Regions from separate parts of the Homo sapiens genome. Here all the other regions are linked to region 3. The links come from fine-mapping of genetic effects on gene expression. A gene starts in region 3. Each other region holds a variant in brackets. All regions are shown on one strand. Distances are from middle to middle. Region 1 overlaps WRNIP1 (WRN helicase interacting protein 1). Region 2 overlaps MYLK4 (myosin light chain kinase family member 4). Region 3 holds the start of MYLK4 (myosin light chain kinase family member 4).

Region 1 (6,218 bases), 34 kb before region 3:
AGTCTTGACTCAAACACTTTCTTGGTGAGATCCACCTTGGCTACTCTACTAAAACTGCACCCATACCTCCCCTTTCCATATTCAATCTTTCATTCATTTTCTCCTTAGCATAGCACTTATCACTATTTGGCATATTAACATATTATTTTTCATACCATAGGCTTTAAGAACACAGAATTTTTGGTCTCTTCTGCTCACTGATGTGTTTTAACATCAACAAGAATGCTCAGCATAAAACAGGCACTCAATATTTATTGAGGCCGGGCGCGGTGGCTCACGCCTGTCATCCCAGCACTTTGGGAGGCTGAGGTGGGTGGATCACCCGAGGTCAGGAGTTCGAGACCAGCCTGACCAACATGGTGAAACCCCCGTCTCTACTAAAAATACAAAAATTAGCCTTGTGTGGTGGTGTGCGCCTGTAATCCCAACTACTTGGGAGGCTGAGGCAGGAGAATCGCTTGAACCTGGGAGGTGGAGGTTGCAGTGAGCCGAGATCGCATCATTGCCCTCCAGCCTGGGAAAAAGAGCAAGAGTTGGTCTCATAAATAAATAAATTTATTGAATAAAAAAAGAAACTTCCCTAGAACTGAAAGGAGTTTCCAGATTGAAAGGCCCAACAAGTACCCAGTGCAGACTTTTAAAACACGGGGAGCAAAGACAGAAGAGTCTACAAGTTGATAGAGGTTACAAACAAAAGACCACACACATCAGGATGCCTTCAAACTTGACAACAATGTGGGAAAGTGTAAAACAATGCACAAGTAATTTCTTACCTACAATTTATTACTAGCCAAACCCTCAGACACGTCTGAAGGTACAATAAAAGCATTTTGAGTCTCCTGAGGTCTAAAAATACTTTTCCTCCACACACCCCTGCTCCATAAAGCTACTAGAGGGTACATGCCACCTGTGCCAGAAAGCAGTCAGTCCTGTCATCAGATGGGGTGCAGGGAGAAGCAGAGGAAAGCTCCAGGGTGATGATGAAGGGAGATTCTGGGGATGGCAACTGCACACTGCAGTGCAACCACTCCAGACAGAAGGAGGGAGGCCAGTCGGGCCAAGCCTCTGCAACATACAGTCCCTCCAGCCTGATAAAACTACTAGAGGATGGGTTGCACTGAAATAGCGGAATAAACCAGTAAGGCGGGATGGAGCATCCAGAAAATGGGCATCTCACTCAGAATAAAGGCAGAGGACGTCCCAGGCCAACAGCCGGCAGCCTTCCAGACATGGCAGGAGGACCCCAGGAGGGATCACGCAACAGCAGGAGGAGAACCGACTACCTGAAGGGGCCATCCTTGTGGGCATATGCACGACATGCAACTAAGGAGAGGGAGAGGAAGTAGCAGTAGGGACAAATAACTCTTAACTGAGCAGAAGGAGTGGCGTATTTTGTGTTCAGGACACACATAAAGTAAAAGAAAAACGACTGTTTAGAAATATGGAGCTGCAAGAAGAAACCAGGACAAGTGGGAAAAAATGGGCATGGGACTACTGGAGTCTTCCACAAGCCATTTAAAGAATTCCTTTATGTATTCCTTTAAAGAGATCAGAGTTAACTTTCAACAAGATAACACTGACTTCTTAACTTAAGCTCCCCACTCTTCCCATCTGGGGTGATTTCTCCTTCCCAGTATCCACCCACCAAATGCAATGGTGACAACGCTGGTACCTAGCATCCAGGCAGGAAAACCATGACAGAATCGAAGAGTACTTTGAAATAGTTTTATTGGCTCGTAAGACCTTTGCATATAAAAAAAATACCCAAAACACTATGCAGTATTAAATCACAATTACATTTTTTTACCAATTAAAACTACCCAGAATATACATTTTTTAAAGAAAAGAAAATCCTACAGAACTGAATTCTGAAATGACATTATGACTTAAATACTATGACAAAATAGATAATTCCTTATAACATTAATTCATTGCACAAAGCTGCCAGGTATTTTCATAAGCATAACCGCTGCACCGAGTGCAAATGAACACAATTTCAAAGTTACACATTTATTCGAAAGAACTGCGCCTCCACCTATGGAACTCTTAAATTTCTGGCACAAAATGTTGGTCTGTTCTAACTTCCACCAGGCAACCAACTTTGCAATCCACTAACTTTCTTTCTGGCCCTCCCTTAAAAAAGCAACATCCTTCTGCTGTCGTGCCCTGAGGAGTCAGCACCTCCTCTGCTTGAAGAAATCTACCCCCCTCAACTCTTCAGGCAGGTACTCCTGATCCACAGGCTCGCTGTACATGGGGTTGTACTTGTAGCCTTTGCCATAGCCCAAATCCTTCATCAGCCTAGTGGGCGCGTTCCTCAGGTGCAGGGGCACGGGGGGCAGTGGCCCCTGGTGGTTCCTCAGGCAGGCTTTGACGTTGTTGTAGGCGCTGTACACCTCAATGGACTTTGGGGCTCTGGCAAAGTAGACCACACACTGGGCCAGAAGCACCTACCAATGACACAGAGGACACATTTTACTAGCAAGATGCCAAGCTTCTGTTCTGCAGAGCCCCTTCTGATACACAGCTCTAGGTAATTCTGAGAAGATCCCCACATGCTTTTATTATCCCCCTTTTGCGCCTACAGTCTGGATAACCACCTACGACAGACAGAAGAAATTCTCATGAGGTGAAACGAGAGGCAAACCAGGTGAGTGGTTTTCATTTTTTTTTTTAACTGAAGGACTTTTTACTACATTAAATTTTTCTTAAGCCCCCAATATATAAAAGAGATGAATATGAAGCTGCTCTGGGGGCGAACTTGCAGAGGCTTTGCTGTTCAGCTCCTTTAACCTTTCTGCTCCCTGGAACATATGGAGCATGTGCTCTGAACCCCGGAATCCCGAGAACAGTTTGAAACATGACCTCGTTGACACAGAAGGTTTCCCTCTCTAGGAGTCTAAGAGTCTACAATTGGAATTCCAAAGCCAAGCAGCATACTCAGTGGGTCCAATACACCAATGGTGAAGGAGGGACATTTATTCAAATCTACAAAGGGACAGAGCACGAGAGAGAAAAGAAGTGATTTGCAAGAAATGAGCTGATTACTTTACCTCACATTCAGGCATGCCTATAAAATGACAGCCTTGGTAGGCAGCAACCGCTTGTGTTAACGCAGACGGGTCTGCCAGACCTGCCACACACAGAGACAAAGGAGAGTTTCAGTCATGACACACACTGTCCTCCTGGCCTATGTGCAGGCGACCACAGACCACCACTGCTTGTACACTTGGTGACCAAAACAATCCCATGTAGCAAAACAGCCTGACTTAGCTCTAGTCTCTGATCCCATGAACTTATGCAAGAAATATTGAGAGTGGTTACTGTGTGGTGTTAAGAACTGTTTCCTTGTGGATAAAAACTCTGCATCTAGAAAAACATGAGTCTCTGTATAACAAACATAAGAAGTGAAGGCTATGGAGACATTCACCAGGATGGAAACACTAAAAACAAAACATCCCCTAAGACCAAAGAAGAGGAGAGCTTTCCTGATCTTTTTCTTCATATAGTGTCTAGAGTCTTCCATTTCTACCTTGGGAGCTGTCCAAAGAAAACCTTGAACACCTGACTTAAAGCAAATTTAAAAGCAGCTCATCTATTGCAATACTCTGAATAGCCACTCATGTTAGTAAAAACATTCCCGAAGAGGAAACAGAAAATGGTGACTTTATGAACATAAACATTCAAAAGCACA[T/A]ACACCAGGAAATAAACGACTGAGCTCAGGCATAAAGTCTTATCTTCTCCTGCCAGTCTCACATAGCCCTGAGACATTCTTCCTGCTACCCCCGCCCACCCCGCCCTGCAAAAAAAAAAAAAAAAAAAGCCACGATGTAACTGTTAGCCATTTCCCCACCCTCATGGACATAGGACTCCGGGACCCTCCCATCACACTCACCTATGTCCTCGCTGGCAAACCTGACAAGCCTCCGTGCCACGTAGAGTGGGTCCTCTCCTCCCTCGAGCATGCGAGCCAGCCAGTAGAGGGAGGCGTTCTGGTCTGAGCCCCGCATGGACTTGTGCAGGGCGGAGATGCAGTTGTAATGCTCCTCACCTGACATCACAAAGAGCACCACTCACACAGAGCTCACAGGAGGGGCGCCCAAGCCATCTTCACCTCCGCCAGCTGACTTCCAGAAAGCCTGAACGAATAAAGGCCCTGAGAAAGCCGAGGAGAGGTTTGGGCAGCTGCCTTAACCGTGCTCTGAGTGGGGTGCACCAGCTGCTGGGGCTTAATCCCAGTCCTATTCAGGGGAAGAGGCTGCTGCAGCAGAAACCTGTGGCTGTCGACATGGAGTGCACGCACACGCACAGAGGCAGGAGGGAGGAAAGGTGGTCCTCCCAGCTGGTGGATTTGCCAGAGACAAGAGTGGAGGGGGACGAGTCTTCTGTTCTGGCTCTATCCCGTGGCCCACCATCTACTGGAGGAAAAGCAACGGTGGGCCTGCTCGGAGCCAGGAGGATGTAGAGCCAAGTGGCAAGGGCAGCTGTTATAGCCCATCTGTTCCTCAGTGTCATTTCCAGCTGCCTTTCTGATATCCGAAGCCTGTGGTCATTTAAACCTCCTTCTGCCAGCCTTGGTGTGGGGACACCTGTGTGGCAGGGTCCCAGAAGGACCGACACGTGGACTAACCAGCTTCCGCCCTGAAGTGGACGGAAGCCCACTCTCTCACCGCCTGGTCTTACTACTCCATTTTTACCCTAGATTCACATGAAATCAGTGAAATGTGCTTTAAAAAAAGGCATATTTAAGGGCAAAAAAATGACAGCTAAACAGTTCTCAGGAACTAAGCAGTGGCACCTGCATACATTTCACTATTCTCTGGCCATCGTCCCTTAGGTAAGTTCAAGGAGGGGGCACCCTCCTCACGAGAAAGCGGAGGATGGTGTTCCCGTGAGTCTCACTCCTCCCAGAGGAGCACCTGGTCTGTGCTCAGCATAAGCCCATGTCCACAATACGACTGGCGCCAGCCACAAACCCTGGCAGCTGAGCTCGCTGGTAAGATGACAGTTGGTCTTCAGGTGGAGAAGAGAGCAAGCGAAGATGCTGGCCTCCCACAGGGGAAAGACCTGCAGGACCCACGGCTCAGCCTGAGTGATTCTGGTTTCTGAGAGCCAGGGCAGATGGATGGGTCAGCCCAGCTACTGGATTTCTGAGAACAAACTGAGTGTCTCCTGTGCAGGGCTCCCCTGGTGAAGTCAGAGTGCTATGGACACTGGCCGAGAGGGTGTCCTGGATGACATCTGCATGGTTCTGGCCCACTCCCTCACCCTGCTGGCCCAGGCACTCAGGCTACGCTCTGCTCCTCTGCAGGGTGGAGGAAGGCGGGGAAGAGGGTAGCAGGTAACAGGCCTGGCTAAACTCACGGGCATGGGGGCTGGAAGAAACTACCCACACCACTTTATGTCAAATTTAAACTCCCCCTACACAGGTTAGTCATCTTTTCCCACTTTGTCAATGCCAGGGGCAATACCACCAGTATAATGGACAAGAGCACAGGCTCTGGGACCAAACAGCCTGGGCTGGACCCCCAAGCTCATGGGCCATGGGCAAGTTCCTGATCCTCACTGTGCCTCAGGTTTCTCATCTGTAAAATGGGAAAAACGAGACCACTTACCTCACAGGGCTGTATTAAATAACACACGCCTGGCACAGAGCAGGCACTGTAAAAAGATTCTTTTGCATCAGTGATAGATACTAGTATTATTCTATGCTACCTTCCATGTTTGCTTTTATTACACACTGCTTTATAACCTGAAATCTGACGACTTCTATAGAACCCCGATGTCAATGCATGGCAGAGAGTTTGCTCTCATTTAGAAATTCCTTCACTCTGATGCAGAAACATCACTGGATCCTACTAGTGGGTAACTATGAACTAGGTGGCATATACAAAAATAATCACAACTCTGGGGGTGGGTCTTTGTCTCACTGGAGTTATAAAAAGGCCCAAGAGTATAAGCTAACAGGTTTCCAGGGCAATGCTTCCACTATCCCTATTTATAGAGCAAAGCCTGTAAAAGCAGCTTTCTCCAAGATCTGAATGATATTTATGTGTCTGCGGATCCACTGTGGGGCAGACATGTTGCACTGGGGTGGGGTGTGTAAACACACTCATACTGGGAAGATGTATAGGATGTGGGGTTCTTAAGGCGCTGGCACTAGGCAGCGGCACTAGGCAGCCTCCACCACCCCCCAGCTCCAAGCTATAGACAAGGTG
Region 2 (6,218 bases), 70 kb after region 3:
GAATCGCTTGAATCTGGGAGGCGGAGATTGCAGTGAGCCAAGATCCTGCCACTGCCCTCTAGCCTGAGCGACACAGCGAGACTCCATCTCAAAACACACACACACACACACACACACACACACACACACACACACAAAAAGGTGGGGAGTTGGCTTGAGGATTTCCATTTGTGAGATTAAAGGTATATAAAATACAGGCCTTCAAGATAAGAATCATCTAAGTAAGATAGTAAAGAAGGCAGAGAAATAACTGCACATACACCTTTCAGAAGAGGTAGCAGAACTTGCACGACAAGTCACTACGAGAAAAGCACATGGTGGTAAGGAAATCGGGACTGAGGGTTTCAGTCCTCTTCCCTCTGCAGTGTGGATGGTGGGGAGCTGTTTGACCGCATCATCGATGAGAGCTACAATTTGACGGAGCTTGATACCATCCTGTTCATGAAGCAGATATGTGAGGGGATAAGGCACATGCATCAGATGTACATTCTCCACTTGGACCTGAAGGTAAGGGTGTTTTGTATCCTGTGAGACGTAAGCCCTTCCCAGCTCTTGCACAGTGGGCCCTGTCTGCTATTATATGCCAGCTGGGGAAATTGGTACAGTCATTTCAGAAATGAATAAACATCTGAATTGTTACCCTCATCTCCTTATTCTCAGCTTCTGTCACTCCCTAATATTTGCATGTTCCATCTTCAGGGGTGATATTCAGATTCTTGTAACTTGCCTGCGTTAAGGAAATCTATATGGCAATGGTTTCCCTAAAAGTTTAGAATGAAAACAGTCACCACCACCACAGCGGTATCCACGTGGTAGCCCTCTCATCAGGACAAGTAGGTGAGAGGATTTTAGCTAACTCAGAATTCCCTAAGTAGTAGTCAACCTTTCCAGGTCTCCAAGAATCGCCGGCAGCTCCTCGAGTCACTCAGGAAGCTCCAGACTTTGGGACTTGTTTTTCTGTGGGTTTGCTGCCCTGTGGAATAGAATCCTATGGAGAATGCAGCAGAGGACAGTCGGAAGGATGGGGCCAAAGTGCTAAGGAGAAGAGAGGGTGGGGTGGGCACCCCACTGCCAATGGTGGAAAGCACACAGAAGCCAAGCCGCCTTTCTTTCTCCTCCTATTGATTGCCCCTTCCCTCTTTACCTCTCTCATGTCTCATTATGAAGTTCCTAGAATCGGACTGTATGTAGTCTTAGTTACAACCAATAAAAGACCTAGGCCCAACAACCCTGATCAAGTCCCATATTGGGACTAAGTATCATAAAGTACGTCTTGTGTGGCTTGGTCATTTTCTCATTTCCCTGTTTGCACAGCGTGACAGTAACATAAAATATACAATCTATATAACATCCCATCTATTGCATTCACTAGGGATTGCATAGCTAAATAAATTTAGCCTCCTGAAATAGGTTTCCATGGGCCTCTCTTCCTATAACTTGGCTTCCCTCACTGTCTTGATTTATGTGCCTTGCCTTTCCCATTCACTTTTGAGCAGGAGGAGAGCAGGAGGAAGTGGTTTATAAAATGACAAAGTCAGAGGCTAAAAATCATTAGCAAAACCCTCACTATGAACTGAGTTTGATAATGCATGCTTTCATGGAGCATTTTCATTGAATGTAGATATTCTGCAGATATCCCTACAGGGATTTGATTGGCAACTGGAACTAGGAGCAAACCTATTGTAAGTCAAATGACTCCATATGAGGCTTCATAACATTGATTGAGGACCTGCAGTGGGCAGTTTTAGTTATGGCTTGGATGCAGAGATCATCATAAAGGTGACAGCTGGATGGGTCCTTAAGGAGCTGCTTTTCTGAAAGCTCCTTGGAAGGAAAAGGGCCAAAAATATTGAGTGATTGTCAGTATGTGGGGGGAGATTATAGGTGACTTACAAACAGTCTGTTTTATATTTTTCTGTTTTGCAAAATTTATCCAATGAACATTGTTTAATTTTATCGTCATAAAAAGGCTAACTTATTGAAATGCCCTCAAAACGGTTTCTCTATATCCTGCAAACTTTTTGATGCCACAGTACTCCTTCACAATTGGACAGCTTTATACATGATCCATCAGTGATTTAAGCATGAAACCAAATGGTTCACGTAGCACCCCCTTCTCTATAATGACTTTTACTCACAAACATCTGTTTTAGAGATAGTTTAGAAAAGGGCTTCCAAAGATATTCTGCCCAACCAAATGTACTATTGAATATTGATAAGGAGACATTATGTCATTTCATAATGTGTTTCTGAATTTCTGATCTCATTGGAACCTCTTCTCCACCTGGACAGGTTGGGGAGGGGAGCCTGATCCCACTAAAGGCTGAGGAACGGGATCCTGGGCATTTGGCTTCTGGGATGGTGCCCTCCAGCTTGTAAAGAATTGGGACTGAGGGTTCTTAACTCTGAAAACTTTTTTTCTCTTTTATAAATGGCCTTGACTTTAAATCAAATCTCTTACTTTCCCAAGACCTCTGTTTTTCTACCCCAGTAAACATTAGGTGCACTTGTAAGGCATTCTGTGAACACTGAGTGGCTGCACTACACCCCATTTTCTCCCCCTGCACCCCAAGACTGTCAGGTCAGCAGGCTAAGGTCTTACCAGGGCCTAGCTCCAAGGGAACACTTAGTCAGGGGTTTTAGGCATTGAGACCAAACTCAGCAAAACCTTGGAACTGCTGAGACTGAAGAACGACTGGAGAGAAAAGCCCTCCTCTGCCGTGCGACTTTCCCATAGGCGTTGAGCAAAGGGAAGCTCTGGAGGCCGGAACGTTCACGTGACAGTGCATGTTCAGTGTGGCTGTTTGAATGGAGCAGGTCAATTCCCTTGGAACTCATCAATCTTGGGAAAAATATTTCTCCAAGAAGGGGAAATTCATACTGAATAATTTAGAGGGGCAGATGTCAGGCCTGAGCGGGCCTCCACAGCACATTTGGGAAGGACTGAAGCAACCTC[C/T]TTTTCTTGCTCCCCTCAAGGCCTCTGCCTGAACTCAGGCATTATGGTGAACTGTGAAGCCGTGCAGAGGACAGGCTGGATAATGCAGGGTTGGCAGGATACCCGCAACCTCATCCACCACATAATTAAAGGAGAAAGTACCCACACGGACAAGCCCGCCCCGAAGTGAAAGGCCTGATATGTTTTTTCTGAGCATCGTTGTATTTTTAGTTGTGGTTCAAGGACAATTTGAGTGAATGATGGTTGTTTTCATTGCTAATGTGTCTCTTTCTCCTGGCAGCCTGAGAATATCCTGTGTGTGAATCGGGATGCTAAGCAAATAAAAATTATTGATTTTGGATTGGCCAGAAGGTATGTCTATTTGGACATAGGTGTACGAATGGAGCTGGGGGACATGATGGTTGCCCTTCCTTTGCAAACATATATCTGATCTGCTCTTTGGTTTCATGATCTCATTTATAATTAATTTAACAAAAATTATGTTTGGCCTTAACTTGCTAAATTTGAGACTTGAGTGTTTAGAAGTTTCTATAATGCATGCAGTAAAAAGTATAAAAAATTAAAACCTAATACAGTGAAGTTTATTAAATTAGAAGCCATTAATTTAGCATTTGCAAGAGTTTGTCCCCTCTTTCATATTTGATCCATCTGTACAGAGAAGATTTACTTTAAAAATATTAACAACGTAAGCAAGTTTGCAAAGGGTTCTGGCACATAAAAGATTCTTCAGGGAACAAAGAGTTTACGTGGACACATTAACAATTCAGCACATTAACGACACATATAAAATGGATGTTGTAAATTATTGCAGTACTGTGTTTATTCATTTTACAGGCTTATTCACATCATCCCCATGTCAATGACTATATCAGTTTTCCTCTTGTCATCTTCTGTAATTCAGATGTTCTCATTATTCACAGCAGCTTCTCCAACAACTGGTTCAGCTTTTAAGGTTTCCTAGTATGAATTTTGACTTTTAAATTTTCTGGGGCCTCTTTACAAGTTTTTGAGCCTCTTGCTTGATTGTTTGATTTCCTTCAATGTTTGTTTGTCTGAAGTTTGCTGTATGGCTGAAGTCATTTTGTCTCATAGACTACATCATTTCAGTGTTCACGATTTTTGATCGACACGTCCATCCTTCCACTTTGTCTCTTAAATTGCAGATACAAACCCAGAGAGAAGCTGAAGGTGAACTTTGGAACCCCAGAATTTCTCGCCCCTGAAGTTGTGAACTATGATTTTGTTTCATTTCCCACTGACATGTGGAGTGTGGGGGTCATCGCCTATATGCTGTGAGTAGCTCTCCTCTGTCTCTGACCCTTCTCCAACTCCATGCATATTTTCTGAGGTTTTGCCGTTTTAAATAAAAGCCCCAATTGGGGTATTTAAAAAATAAATAACACTGTCCCATCCTCAGTTGCCTTCTAGGTTTTGTTGACTCCTGTGGGTGAAAGGAGTGAATTCTTTCCCTGCACATCATTTGGAAAAGTAAATGTGTGTCCTCTTCATTAATCACTTTAACTCCTAGGACACAACCTAAAAGCCAAAAATTAATTTAAAAAGCTCACATGGCCTGGCGCGGTGGCTCAAGCCTGTAATCCCAGCACTTTGGGAGGCTGAGGTGGGCGGATCACGAGGTCAAGAGATTGAGACCATCCTGGCCAACATGGTGAAACCCCATCTCTACTAAAAATACAAAAATCAGCCGTGCGTGGTGGCATGCACCTGTAATCCCAGCTACTCGGGAGGCTGCAGGAGAATTGCTTCCAGGAGGTGGAGGTTGCAGTGAAACGAGATCACGCCACTGCACTCCAGCCTGGTGACACAGCGAGACTCCGTCTCAAAAAAAAAAAAAAAAAACTGATCTCCTAAATGACTCAGGCTAGCCTCACCCCTCAGAGGTGACATGCCTAGCGTTTGCCATCTGAGCATGTAGTAGCACTTTGCAAGCTGAAAAGTGCTTTAAAAAGGAAGCTGATATTCATATTCATATTCTGTTATTGCTGCAGTTGTTCAGTTAGGAGTTGGGTGGGGGCGGCAAGCATTTTCTTGATTACAATAATATGTTATAAAATTATGCTTCAGGATTAGGTTATTTTCCTTCTCTCACCTTTAAATGGCACAACCAGAAAAGCAATCTGTATGGAAAGGGGTTGAGGCTGTTTAAAAAATACTCACTCTGGACCCCGTGTCCTCCAGACTTAGCGGTTTGTCGCCTTTCCTGGGTGACAATGATGCTGAGACGCTGAACAACATCCTGGCCTGCAGGTGGGACTTAGAGGATGAAGAATTTCAGGACATCTCGGAGGAGGCCAAGGAGTTCATCTCTAAGCTTCTGATTAAGGAGAAGAGGTAACGCAAGTTCGTCCTGTGCTCCGGGCGCAGTAGGGATGATAAGGAAGCAGGGCCTACCACCAGGGCTGTTCGAATTTATTCTCTTACTAACATCTGTGATGCTTGCGCAAAGTCATGGATAGAATGAGGTTTGAGCCTCTTGACCCAGTCTACTGAGATCTGGGACTGCTTTGGTCATGAAGCTACACAAACCTTTCTCTTCCTGCCATTTATCATATGGCCATACCAGCCATGGACTCCTGCTGGGCCTTAGTTGACTCACTGTCAAAATGGAAGGCTTGGGAGAAGTATTTCTAGGATTCCTTTCACCTCTACTAAGCTGTATATGGTTCCGTGTAGCTGAATCTTTAACTACCATTTCATTTGGGAAACTACTGTGGGCCAGATCATGCCAAGTGCTTTGTAGACATTATCTCTTTTAACTACCACCCCTGACCCCAACTCCATGAGGCAGAAATCGGGTAGAAGATCCCACGTGGTTTGCCCATCATCATACCGCCAGTAATTGGCAGAACAGAGGCTCAAACAGATAGTTCTCCTTCCCCAACGGCCGCACACTTGGCTGTTATTTATTACATGGCCCTCTATTTTCTGTTATGCTAAAACCACATTAATTCAAAATTCAGTGAATGAAAAAGAGTGACATTGAAATATAGGGATTTGCATTTTAGAATCATAGAAGGGGAAGGGCATTGTGATTAACCCATCAAACACGCTGTTTCAGATGGCTTTATACCTGAGCCGTATAATGATTGAAGTAGTTAAGGTTTTCAGGGTCAATAGCACTTGCCTTATCGTTTTATTATCTTTATGGCTTTAAAGTCACTAATACACATGGCTGTGGATCAACAGGTAGAAGGGTGTCACAGGGAGTGGGGAAACAGTGTGGGCAGTGGGTCTGGCACAC
Region 3 (6,218 bases):
TATACATCTGTAGCTGGTCTTTTCATTTTCATAATAGTGTCTTTTCATTTTCCTAATAGTGTTTTTTCAAAGGCAAACGTTTTGAATTTTGAAGAAGTGCAATTTATCAATCTTCGTTTTTATGGGTCGTATTCAGTGGTGATTTTTGAAAGTAAGGAAGTTCTATTGTAATGTGGGTAACAGGGATGCAGTAGCTTTTTATTTGCATTTGGGTATTTGTACTGTTGCTCCGCTTTTGTGTGTAAACATTCAAGAGGTCTTGTTCTGGAAACATTCAGAACGCTGTGTAGAAACAAAAACTCTTAGTGTAATCCAGCCGGGTTTCAATGCCAACCCGTAGACAAGAGCTGTCGACGATGTTTCTTCATGTGGCTCCTTTGACAACACAGTCTCTTACTCAGCTAATGGAAATGTCCCTTGAAAAAAATCAAGGGATTCTTTTCCATGGCTCTGTAGGGTGCTGTTTTCCTGATGTTGGTATTTTTTAGAGAAGTATAACTCCAAAATATGGAAATACTGGAAAAGTGTTCCTGGGCCTGCTCATATTCCTCACTAATGAATTTTTCCGGGTATAAGAGCATCTTTAAGCATGCAGAACATTTTATGGGTATGGACTTAGGATCCTGAGGCTAGGCTGATAGACCAGAATGAGTATGCATGTATAACCTGTTTTTTTGTGGTCAAGGGTTGTGCCAGCAGTGTGCTTGTCCTGTATGCCATCGGAAGCTGGGAACAGTGTGATGCAGCAGAACCAGACAATCAGTCACTTTTAGCATGGATTATTTTAATTGACTTGCTTTTTAGGGCAAGTAGACACAATTAAAGATCATTCTATCTAGTCATTAATCAAATATGTATTGAATGTATATTGTGCATGGAAATGTCTATATGTGGATGCCTTCCAAATTCTTATCTCCAGCCTACACCCCTCCCCGGAACTCCAGTTTCTATCTCCACAGCCTATTCAACTTGAACGTTTAATGGACTTGCCAAAGACTTCATGCCTGACCTTTCCCTCCAGAGTTGCCCTTCCCACAGCCGTCTCCATCTCAGTTAATGTTCACTCTGTCTTTCAAGTGCTCAGAAGAAAATATGCAAAGGTGTCTACCATCTTTCTTTCATACCCCATACCCAATCTATCATAAATCCTACTGATTCTAAATGTACTGTGGAATCCTGCATGGGATTCTGGAACAGAAAAGGGGCATTTGGGGAAAAAAAAAACCCAGCAACAATAAAGTATTGAGTTTAGTTAATAATAACGTTCACCATGGTTCATTAATTGTGACAAGTATACCATACCAACGTAAGATGTTAAAAACAGAGGATTCGGGGTGCAGGGCAAGGGGAACTCTGAACTACCTTTGCACCTTTTCTGTAGATGTAAAACTACTCTAAAAGGAAAAGTTTATTACAAAAAAATAAGCTAAGGAGCAGATTCTCCTGGCCTCTGGCTCACTCAAGCCTGTGGTTGGTTTGCTGGAGCCAACGAGATAGGAAGTCTGCTTTTGCGTGGTGGTGGTCCGGGTGGAGGATGTGGTTGGATCAGCAGCAGCCCACACACATCTTGCCTCTGGCAGGGCATTTGTTGCCTTATCAGTACTTCTACACAATTTAATTATACTAACAAAATTGGTAACCTCAAACCAGCTTAGTCTTTGTATAATACTTTTGTCAGATAATTTATCTCCACAAATTTATAGTTCCACTTCATTACTTTTGCTGAAGAACAAAGCTCTCCAATCTGAAAAATAACAAGCGTTTTGTGTTTTAAAAAAGATTTTGCTGTAATTCATTAATACTACATAAAATGGAAAAATATGTATTTTTATTTCACATGGAATGCATCGATCTGAATTAAAAATAAGGTTTTTTTTTTAAAAGAAGCAGAAGAGCAGCAGAGGCTGGTGTTAGAATGGGGCATAGAGGGGCTAACACAGGCTCCAAATAAGAGGTGACAATTGGCCAGGCCCTGAAAAATTGCAGGGTTTTCAAGACTGCAAAGTCCAGCCTCTGGGCAATCAAAGTTTTATGCCACTTCAGTGAATCTAGGGATGCACTACTGTGAGAGTCGGGCAGGTGGGTTGAAATTCCCCTTTCTTGGTCTGTGCAGAAAACTACGGATGAAGTCCTAGTGTTGCTTAAGGAGAATTTATGAAAAATTTATTCCTGTTTCCTGGATGCCTGTGCCTTTGACCTTTCCCTAGAGCTAGAAATGGTTGGAGACTTTGCAAACATCTTTAAGAACTGAGAAAAATAAAACAAACTTGCTAACTGCTTTCAGAAGATCTTCTATATTGCAGTTGGATATGCTCAAAGCGTAAGATGGGCAAACAGAGGTGGCTGTGGGGTTGCCACACCTGGCATTTTCCCTACTGGGGGAAATTTAATGAGCACTTAAATAATCCTGAGTCTGAAAGGGGCAGAAGGTCCAGGCAGATGATTGCCGAGGACAAATCTAGCTTTGTAAATCCGAGAGTATTGACACAATGATACGAGGGAAAGGTGAAGGTGATATTTCATCCAGTGTTCCCGGTTCATCCTCTCCTTACCTGACCTCTGAAATGGAGCCATTGGCCTTGAAAAGCCTGGTGTCTAAAATTAATATTCTTCCCCATCTGACTAAGAAGGCAACAGCTGAGCAACGTGAGATCAAGAGCCATATTAATTTAAACAGGGGCTGAAAGTGGCATTTGAGAGAGAAGATACTTCCTCTCGTAGTGGACACTTGTCTTTTCAGAAGATTTATACGACTGAGAGTCAAAACTTTTACCAGAGACTTTCATAGTCAGTTTGAATTCTGCAAAATTTCTCTTTATCTTCTGGAATGTATGCTCTAGACTTGGAGTGGCTCAAGCTCTTCGATGTGATCCTATCAATGGTAATTATCTTTGTTTATTGTTATAACCTCTCAAATCTCCTCCCCTTTTTTCTAAGTTACCTTCAATAACAAATTGTACCAAACTTCAGGTAGAGCTTAATGTTTAATATTTCTTTGCAAAATTATTGTATCTTAATCCTAAGCTTTTGTTTTAATACATTAATTTTGTGTGGCTTCCTGATCCAACTTGAGTTTCATCTGCAATTAACCATAGTATTTTAGTCGTAGTTTGCCTTAGAAATAGCCATGCATTTGTTTCCTTATTTTAATAATTTTTTCAGGGCAATTTGAAAGAATGCTAAGAATGATCTGTAATATATCTGTAGAGCTCTGGTTGATAGTATTAATATTTGCATTTTTATTTGTTTGAATGTAAGCTCTTTATGTGGATAAGTATAATTTGTTAGAGCAGTGAATTTTAAACACTTTGGAACTCAAGAGTATCATTTTACTATAGGAACTGACAAAACAAAATATTAAGTTTTCTGATGAGAATCACAATACGGTTTTTAAGCGGAGAAAATGCTCGAAGAGGCGCTTTTCGGAAAATCTCCACCAGGGGGCCTCAGTTGTCAGCCATGCGGAACTAGCACAAATTCAAATGTCTCTCCCTCTCCCTGCCTCTCTATGCAATCAAGTGATGTGTACATATAGACATGCGTATATGTCTCTAGTATCAAAGCGAATTATGTATGCTGCATTACTTCATTTGCGAGGAAAGTATTTTAAGGAGAGTGAAAAGACTCTGAACTTCTCGGTACATAGCTGTTAATGCAGATGCAAGGAAAGGTATCTGGGAGTGCTGTCCACGTGAGAAGACTGTAAGGAAATAAATTTCTTTTCACAAATAAACACCACACATTTTAAGGCATAGGTAGAGAAGAGTTCTGGAAAAGGACTCATTCGGGAGCGATCCCTCTGCAGAGGGAGGCCAGGGGAAGCAGAGAGACCCCTTCTGTGATAAGCCCTTCCCACGGGGCTGCAAAACCTGCGGTTCCAATTAAACCCAAAGATACTTTATAATTTACATCCAAGCTGGCCACTTGATCTACGGCTTGTTTTGTGCAATAAGGAGCATATTTCATCACCAGTGAATCTTGACATTGCTTCTTACTGTTTGCTTTTGTAGTTTTAAAGTGAAAAAATTTTTTTTCCTTTTAAAGTTCCAATGTTGGAAACTCAATATGAATGTTAGTATTTCTTTTCCTGATTTTGGATCCTCTCTCCAGTTTAAACAGAAGGGACTTCCAAATTCTCACTGGTCATTTTCTCAAGAAGTCAAATGCATGAATACGTGATGAGAACTTTTTGTGTTTCCTTTCTTTGCAGTCAAGAGAAAGAAGCACTGAAGAGTCATAATTGTGTCCTGATTTATAAATCGGAGACAGAGGGAGACGAAAACCACACTCCAGAAAGTAGCTTAATCGGACTCACTACTAAGATGTTAAAAGTGAAGAGGCTGGAAGAATTCAACACGTGTTATAACAGCAACCAGCTGGAGAAAATGGCCTTTTTTCAGTGCAGGGAAGAGGTGGAGAAAGTGAAGTGTTTTCTGGAAAAAAATTCTGGGGACCAGGATTCAAGATCTGGACATAATGAGGTAATCATGTTCTAATTTAGTCTCCTAAAAAGTATTCATTCTATCTTATCTTTTCTAATGTCATGGAGCCGCTTGTGAGTACAATTAAGGAAAGTTTATGAATAGGCATCATTCCACTTTGCTTCAGTGAGAATTGTGTGTGTCGACTATACAATTGTGTTTGGTAAATAATTAGGAGGCCTTTGAAACTGCATTTCTGCCAGCAGTCGACTTCACTTTTAGTTAGTGGCTTAGGAGTTATACAGCCAGCTTGCAGAAATGAAGAAGAATCCTTTAGCATGATGGATTTGGGCTTGAAATTCAGAAAAGGGCTCTGAGAGGCACACTGTTCTGCAGAAAGAAGTTTCTCCTTTTTCCTTCAGATCTTGAGTTCCTCACGCGGTAGACAGCAGAGCTGTTGATAGTGAAGTCCAGAGAAGGGACAAGAAAGACTTGCTGATGGCACGACGGTGGGGCTTGTACCCTCCTCTGTGCAGAACGAGAGTTCTGAGCCCCATTCCAGCTGCTCGTTCTTGGGAAAAATATTAATTTAACCAAGGGCTTGCCACATCTGAATTAGTGAGATAATAGCAATTGTGAAAATTAAGTGTGATCACGTCTGTAAAGCACTCCGCCTAGTATCTGTCACTAGAGTCAGCATTTAATATGTGTTAGCGGCAGCAGCAATTACCTCCCCTGCCTTGGCCCAGTCAGTTCCTGCCCATCATCCGTTGGCTCCTTGCCCGGTGGGAGCATCAAGCATTTTGCCCGTGCCTTCATTCCAGCACATGTGGTGGTTTTGAACATGTTGATCACCTTTCTCTAGACAAGGCTCCTTAAGGTTGGGAAACCTCGTGTTATTTGTTCATGTTTCCTCAGTTGCTTTCCTAGTAACGGAAACAAATAGGCACCAAAAGTGTTTTTGGAATGCACAGATCTATTTAAGTGAATTCTGGTTGAGGGCTGGGAACCATTATTTTTGATAATCAGAGCAAGTGATTCTTATCAGGCAGGTTTGGAAAACATCCTTCTTTGCCCAGCTACTGTTCTAAAAAACACTATTCAGGTAGGAAGGGCGTTTCTAACAATGCAATAGACAATGAAATAGAGAGATTGTATATAAAAGGTCTAGGAGGCTTTTTATTGTAAGTGAATAAGAAATGACAAAATGTGCTGGAGAGAATAAATGAATCAGATTGAAACATTTTTTTGAGACCTCTGCTTTCCCCATGAGTTCAATATAGACCAAGGAGAAATATCTACAGGCAAAATTAAGTGAGACATGACTTTCTCATTAGGGTTTTCAGTGGTACAAACAGGATAATTTTTTCTGTTTATTAATTTCGGTAGGACAGAGAAGACAAAATATTCTTCTTGGAGAACTTTGAAATCATCAACTAACTGTAATAGTTTATATGAATTTCATTATCTTTCAAGTACTGTTTTTCTCCAAAATCTATGATACAATTTTTATAAATGGGCAACACTCTAAAGAGTGAGATAAGCAGGACACATGGCTCATACCTGTAATCCCAGCACTTTGGGAGGCTGGGGCAAGAGAATCACTGGAGGCCAGGAGTTTGAGACCAGCCCAGGTGACATGGTGAGATGTCTATTTCTACAAAAATAAAAAAATACAAATAAAATAGCGGGCATGGTGGCACACATCTGTAGTCCCAGCTACTTGGGAGGCTGAGGCAGGAGGATTGCTTGAGCCCGGGAGTTCAAGGATGCAGTGAGCTATGATCACACCACTGC

What was found.
Region 1: its variant is fine-mapped to the expression of MYLK4 in lung (TOPMed, PIP above 0.99). The same link has a PIP of 0.9 or more in whole blood.
Region 2: its variant is fine-mapped to the expression of MYLK4 in whole blood (TOPMed, PIP above 0.99). The same link has a PIP of 0.9 or more in atrial appendage, breast, coronary artery, esophagus muscle, gastroesophageal junction and minor salivary gland.

The regions. Positions count from the first base shown.
Region 1 is chr6:2,781,239-2,787,456 of GRCh38, reverse strand. WRNIP1 (WRN helicase interacting protein 1) reads right to left here. Exons shown (of 7, transcript NM_020135.3): 5 at 3,896-4,051; 6 at 3,054-3,133; 7 at 505-2,450. The coding sequence ends at 2,175. Among named protein-coding and RNA genes, the nearest start is that of WRNIP1, 19 kb to the right of the region's middle. The variant T/A (reference allele first, on the strand shown) is at 3,695.
Region 2 is chr6:2,677,310-2,683,527 of GRCh38, reverse strand. It overlaps MYLK4 (myosin light chain kinase family member 4), which reads left to right. Exons shown (of 13, transcript NM_001012418.5): 7 at 366-507; 8 at 3,237-3,307; 9 at 4,120-4,248; 10 at 5,156-5,308. Among named protein-coding and RNA genes, the nearest start is that of LINC01600, 46 kb to the right of the region's middle. The variant C/T (reference allele first, on the strand shown) is at 2,957.
Region 3 is chr6:2,747,399-2,753,616 of GRCh38, reverse strand. MYLK4 (myosin light chain kinase family member 4) reads left to right here and starts at 2,695. Exons shown (of 13, transcript NM_001012418.5): 1 at 2,695-2,881; 2 at 4,211-4,481. The coding sequence starts at 4,323. RefSeq lists a silencer at 828-1,122.